2 linked regions of the Homo sapiens genome follow. The protein of the gene in region 1 interacts with the protein of each later gene in a pairwise test. Each region holds a gene or a part of one and is shown on either strand. Other genes may lie near its edges.

Region 1 (3,500 bases):
GCCCGGCCCCCACTACTGTTCTTTTCCTGATCTAGGATCTAACCCAGGATCCCACATGGCATTTACTCATCATGTCTCCAAAGTCTCTGAATCTATGGCAGTTGCCCGGTCTTTCCTTTTTTTCATGCCCTTAACACTTTTAAAGGGTACTAGTCAGTTATTTTGTAGAATGTCTCTCAATTTGACAACCCCAGACATTTAAAAACAGCTTAATTTTTTTTTTGACTAGATAACACATTCACCTGGTACAAAATGTGTGAGAAGACTGTTTTAAAAATTAGCTGCATCAGCGCATTAATAGGTCAGATTTTGTTTGCTTATACGACGACATATGTTGGTTATGGAAAACTTAGACAATATGCAAAGAGGTGGGATAGAAAGGCAAAATCCCCCTAAATCTTCCCTCTAAGAGCAATCACCATGGACCTTTTTGGTGAACATCTGTGCAGACCTCTCTGCACGTGTTCATGGGAGGCTTAATCACTGACATCTTTTCCCACAAATAGGCTCTCGTAACACTTGCTATTCTGCGACCTGCTTTTCCGCCCAGAGAAATGTCCTGGCCACTTTTCTGCATCTCAGATTTGAGTCTCAGAGCATCTTCTCTGTGGCTGTTCAGCATGGGATGACCCAGCCAGTCTCCTGTGGGACACATTTAGCATAAGGAAATCCATGCGTTGCACTAAGATCTCTGTAAGCGGGCAAGATGCTAGGCTGAGAGTGGAAGTGTTGGTGTGGTTCCTGGCTCTCGTTGTTCTGAAAGAGTCCCCTTCCCTCTCTATCTGTTTCATTACTGGTAACAGGGAGATGTGTAGGTTTCTCAGACTCAGGGCAAGGGAGAGGCTCAGGGCTCTGTGTGCACCCTGATGCTGAATCTCACTTCCCCTTCCAGGCAGGGTGCCCAGTCTACCCAGGATGAGGTCGCTGCATCTGCCATCCTGACTGCTCAGCTGGATGAGGAGCTGGGAGGTACCCCTGTCCAGGTGAGCCCAGCCCACCGCCTCTCTGGGCTGCAGCCTGAGCCTTGTCCTTCTCTTCACTCATCTGTCTGACTCTCATCCATCCATTCGTTTGTCCATCTGTCTGTCTGTCCATCCATCCATCCATCCATCCATCCATCCATCCATCCATCCATGGAACAGGTATTTATTTAGGGCTTCCATGTGTTCCACACTGCATCTGTAGCCATGGACACACAGACACACTGTCCCTGCCCTAGTGGACTTTGCTGTCTTGGGTGGTAGTAGACATTCAACACACAGGCACACCAATGGCTATGACAGATGCAGTGAGTGAAATTGACAAGACCTTGGGAGAGAGACATGGGAGAGGCCATGTGGCTGAGCACGGATGTGGAACCAGCATGCTTGGGTTTGAATCCTGTCCTCACCTCTGGGCAACGTTGGGCAAGTCACTTAGCCTCTCTGTGCCTCTGTGTCCTCAAAATAGGGGTAATAACAGTACCATCCCACAAGATTGCTGTGAGGATTAAGAGTTAACATTTGTAAGCATTTAGAATCATGCCTGCCATATAAGAAGTGCCCCCTTATACATATGTGTTAAGTACAAGGAGGTAAATCCTAGGTAGGATCCTATTGGATTAGAAAAGCCCACCCCTGTCCCAGGAGGGGACTGTTCAACTGGGACCTGATGCACGTGTAGGAGTTGCCCAGGCAGAGTGAAGGAAAGCACATTGTGGGTAAAGGGTGGTACACATGCAAAGGCCCTGAGGTGGGAGGGGGCATTGGGTGTTAAAGCAAGGGGAAAATGCCATGATTTGAGGCTAGAGAGGTGCTCAGAGGGGCCAGACCACCAGAGGCCATAGTGACGATGTTGACCTTGATGCTGAGAACAACAGGAAGTTGCTGAATGATAAGTCTGAGGTGTAGGGATTTCTGGTTTAAAAAGTCACTCTGGCCAGGCGCTGGAGGGCAGCAGAGCTGGTTTGTGGAAATATAGGGGAAGCGGACAACAACTGTGCTTCCTCCGTCCTACGGTGGGAGTGGGCAGGGCTCTAGATTGGCATCGGGGGTTCGTGCCCTGACCTTTGACTATGATAGACTGGGTGCTGGGCACTAAATGAGATGATGACCATCTTAGCTCAGTGCATCCTGACAACAGCCTTGGGAGTAGCATCCTTGGCTGCATTTTTCAGAGGAGGAACTCAAGAGGTTGAGACACGTGCCCAAGTTCTCACCATCAGGGTGGAGTTGGGGTCTAAGCCCTAACTCAGCGGTGGTGGGTCGTGGTGGGAAGCGACTGCCATATGCCTGACGTACATGTGAGGTTTTCTTCTGGACATAGTTAGCCGGGGCCACGGTAAGGTGCCGCACACAGGGCAGGAGCAGATGTGAGGGTGTACATCTTCCCTGCCTCACTCCCACCACCAAGCCCCTGACTGCTGCCCGCATCTGGGGTGCACTGGCTCTGCAGGAGGGGGTTTTCTGGATCTAGAATGCTCTGTTCTTACCACTCCACCAGCAGTCATGCCCAGGCCTGACGTCAGCATTCTGGAAGAATGTCCACCAGCAATCCCTGTGCTTCTATTTAAGGGAACATTTGCAAACACAGGCTCTCCTGGTTCTTGGACCAGGCTGAGGATCAGGAAGGCATGTCGTCATGGAGATGGAGAGCAGCCCAGCAGCAGTGCCCTGGGGACCTCAGACAATAGCACTGTCTCCACCCTTCCTGGAATTCTGGTGTCCCTGCCTGTGTGTTGTCGGGTCACATTCCATGCCACACACAGACACAAGCATGATGGCTTCGTCTGGAGGGATGGGCCCAGTGCGACATAGAAGGACTGAAGCCTGCCCCCAAGGTCCCTGACTTGCTCTCCTGTCTCCCTGCCAGAGCCGTGTGGTCCAAGGCAAGGAGCCCGCCCACCTCATGAGCCTGTTTGGTGGGAAGCCCATGATCATCTACAAGGGCGGCACCTCCCGCGAGGGCGGGCAGACAGCCCCTGCCAGCACCCGCCTCTTCCAGGTCCGCGCCAACAGCGCTGGAGCCACCCGGGCTGTTGAGGTAATTTCCAGGTCCTGGAACACAGAAGGGATTGGCCTCCCTGAAACCTCCCAGCTCAATGACCAGATCTCCAGGCACAGGAACGGGGGCAGGGGATGGTGAATGACGGGGTAAGAAGCAGCTTTTTGTATTTTCCTGCCGTGGCCACAGGGTTGTCTGTCTTAGACTCCCCCCTGTTTCAAGGATACCCAGTGTCCCTTGCACACTTTGCACAGTGGACAGCTCACTACCTACCATTCTGTACAATCAGCATGCCATTCCTGATTACGTTCCAGTTGCCTACTATCCCTTTCACGGAGGAAGGCACAGATCTGGACTTGATTCCCAGGATGGTCTGAGCAGCCTAGAGGGGAATGGGACTCTCACCTCCTTTGTTCTGGGCATTCAACTTCTGTTAATGCAGCCCTGATTTTTAGAATCATGTTGGCTAGTCACAGTGCATTAGTGACTCATGGGAGTCAACCAAGGCCATCAGGGTC
Region 2 (3,500 bases), on another chromosome or scaffold:
CCCTAAAATAATAACACCTTCCTTTTGTCTGCAGTAAATCTGTTTTTCCTATTAATGAAGAATTTAAAAATATTTTTTGCAAAGCCTGTGTCCAACTTACATTCTAATGCATTATAAAGAAATTCAAAATCTTCATTTGTTTTAGGATTATGCCTCCGGTGATAGTCCAATTTTATCCATTCTTCTTTTTCTCTTATCTTCCTTAGTTCTTGCTGTGTTTCCCATTCCAGTCTTAAGCTTTTCTGTCTTCTTAAATTCTCTACGAAGATTTTAGCATGCCATTGCCTGTAGTAAGTCTGTATCACTATCACCTATAGTTAAATTAAAAGGAAATAGAAAGTGCCTATCATCAACTTTTTGATCAGACAATAAAGGCAATGATGATTATTTCAATTCCAATTCCACAACAAAATAACTGAGTCTAGTTTTAGCTCCAAATACATATTTTCACAAACACTAACATAAAAAACATGTATAATGCATGTGACTGCTATTTGACTTTGACATCTCGCAAATATACCTTCCCAGAAGGATGTTTGTACGATCCTTAACAGAATAGACTCTGGAGTAAAACTTAGTTTGAATCTTCCTTCTGCTACTCACTAGTTGTTTGATTGGATAAGTTACTTGCCATCTCTATGCTTTAGTACCCTCATGTGTAAAACAGTGATAATAAGAGTATACATATAAAGTGCTTAACCCAAGCCTGGTACATCATGAGTCCTCAATAAATACTATTATTGTCATACATATTAATTATCTCCATCTTATCTTAAATGCCACTAGCTTAGGCTCATGTTTATAACAAAACTGTGTTTTCCTAAATACACATCAGGTAGGTATGTGTGGAAACCACCAAAGGCAGGTTAGATAAAATGGAGACTGAAGCAAACAAATATTTATTAACTTGTATGAAACATGAATATGTTTGAAAGTACACCATAGTACTAAACCCTCAAAAAGTTTATGATATAGCTGAGAGAGTTTATCATTTTTTTCTGAGAGTTTATAATTTTATTTATTAAACTCATAAATAAAAATAAAATGTGAAGAGGCCGGATCAAGACTGATGATAGAGCTTATGCTGATGCATCCCTTACTCTCATCCTAATGCCTAATAATTGTAGAAAAACTATGTAAAGCAGATATCGACAAAGATACTAGATCAAACTGAAGGGGTCCCCCAAAAGAATAGAAACTTTGAAGAATCCCTTCAACAAAAGAGGCCAGTAGAATTAATTGAAGAAAGAGTCTGTAACCTAATCATGCACTGGAGAAGCAAGTCAGAAAAAACAAGGGGCTCTAGGACTGCTCTAAGCCCAAAACTGATGGATGGTCTGAGCAGAGTGGCCACTAACCAGGTGACTTTAAAAACTGCAAAAGGGATAGGTTCCTCTAAAATAATTAGGCAAGGAGCAACAGAGATATTTGTCCCTAGGCAAGAGTGGTGAGTGTCCCAGAAGGTGACACCCAGGATGAAAAAAAAAAAGCCCCCTATCCAGAAAACTAGGTTTCTCCCATAATCAAGCTTTACATTTCCCCTAAAATCATGGGGTCAGACTGGGTGAACCAATATGCTATTGGCACACTGGACATTAAGAATCTCAAACACATCAGCGGCATCTAGAAAACTATTAGCAATGCAAATTTTCAGGCCCCACCCCAGAGCTATTGATCAGAAACTCCTGGGTAAGCACAGCATTCTATATATTCATGAGCCCTCCAGATGATGCTTATAGTAAAGTTTTAGAACTACTAGAGTAAATCAAAACAAAACAAAATACAAGAGCAGACTAGATATAGTTAATATTTTCACAGAGAAAGGAAAGGCTATCAGTATAAAATAATATAATGAACCAAGAAAAAAGACTGGCAAAAATTTTATTTTTGAAATTTAAAAAATTAATAGAATATGGATTAGCCTGAGTGCTATTAAACTTGTTCAACTTATTTAAAACACCAAAACACAGTTGTTTAAACAACACAGAAGTTTTTTCCCTTTCACATGACAATCCAGGGATTAGCAAAGCAGTTTAGGGCTCGTAGGAAAGCTCTGTCATATTTAACAAATGGCTTCCTACTTATATGTCCCAGATGGCTGGTCCACTTACCATCTTCCAACCAGTAAATAGAGGGAAAAGGAACAAAGAGCATTTTAAGAATGATAACTGTAAGTGGCTCACATTGTCCCTCACATCTCGCTGTCCAGATCTTAGTTATATGGCCTCACTGATACACAAGGGAAGTGATGAAATGTGGTCATCAGTGGAACAGCCACATGCTCAGATAAAGCTTTATTACAATAGGAGAAGGGAAAAAATGGGTATTGACAGAGAACTAGTAGTTTCTTGTAAGCTGATCTGCAGAATGTGTAGAACATAAGAAGTAATAAGTAGGTAAGAAAATTAGGTGAGAAAATCTTTTAGCATGCAGGACAAAGGCTCATAAAAATTTAAATGAATGAATGAAAAATAAGAGACACAAAAGATAAATCCCAGCATTCCAAAATGTTTCCTTTTTTTCTTTTTTTCTTTTTAGGCGAAGTCTCACTGTCACCCAGGCTAGAGTGCAGTGGTGTGATCTCAGCTCACTGCAGCCTCCGCCTCCTGGGTTCAAGTGATTCTCATGCTTCCCCTCCTGAGCAGTTGGGACCACAGGCACGTGCCACTATGCCTAGCTAATTCTTGTATTTTTAGTAGAGACAGGGTTTCACCAAGTTGCCGAGCTTGGTCTCCAACTCCTGGCCTCGAGTGATCTGCCCACTTCAGCCTCCCAAAGTACTGGGATTACAAGCATGTGCCTCAGCATCTGGCCTCATCCCAAAATATTTCTGAGATAAGTTCCAGATAAAATAAGGAAAGTTGATTACAGAAATTCATAAAAACATAATAGAGGTATATTTCCCACAGCAAGACATGGACTCTCGGAAAGGGTACATCACCAAGTCTCAAGCATATTACAATAAGATTACCAAATACCAAGGATAAAGTGAAAATCCTGACAGCTTCTAGAAAGAGGAAACAAAGAAAGGAGGGGGCAGAAAATGAAGAAAAGCCTAGTAAGGTTCTTGACTTATTCATGGAAACGATATATAGGCTGATTAGATATGCACTTGGTATAAAAAAATTAGTTATGTTAAAAAATGTGTATGAGTAACTGTCAGAGGCGTGTGAACCAGAGCAACTCCATCTTGAATAGGAGCTGGGTGAAATGCGGCTGAAACTTACTGGGCTGCATTCCCAGACAGCTAGGCATTGTAAGCCACAGGATAAGATAAGAGGTCAGTACAAGATACAAGTCATAAAGACCTTGCTAATAAAACAGGTTGCAGTAAAGAAGCCAGCTAAATCCCACCAAAACCAACATGGCGACAAGAGCGACCTCTGGTCATCCTCACTGCTACACTCCCACCAGCGCCAAGACAGTTTACAAATGCCATGGCAATATCAGGAAGTTACCCTATATGGTCTAAAAAGGGGAGGCATGAATAATCCACCCCT

Evidence for each region. Proteins that work in one complex are often made in the same cells at the same time.
Region 2: the proteins of GSN (region 1) and IQUB interact in binary tests that used the Homo sapiens proteins (3 or more experiments, as listed by UniProt).

The regions. Positions count from the first base shown.
Region 1 is NC_000009.12:121,323,662-121,327,161, forward strand, and holds part of GSN (gelsolin), read left to right. Parts: intron 1-892; coding exon 893-983; intron 984-2,850; coding exon 2,851-3,021; intron 3,022-3,500. UniProt on the Homo sapiens protein: Calcium-regulated, actin-modulating protein that binds to the plus (or barbed) ends of actin monomers or filaments, preventing monomer exchange (end-blocking or capping).
Region 2 is NC_000007.14:123,496,596-123,500,095, forward strand, and holds part of IQUB (IQ motif and ubiquitin-like domain-containing protein), read right to left. Parts: intron 312-3,500; coding exon 101-311; intron 1-100. UniProt on the Homo sapiens protein: Adapter protein that anchors the radial spoke 1 (RS1) complex to the A microtubule of outer doublet microtubules in axonemes. The triple radial spokes (RS1, RS2 and RS3) are required to modulate beating of the sperm flagellum.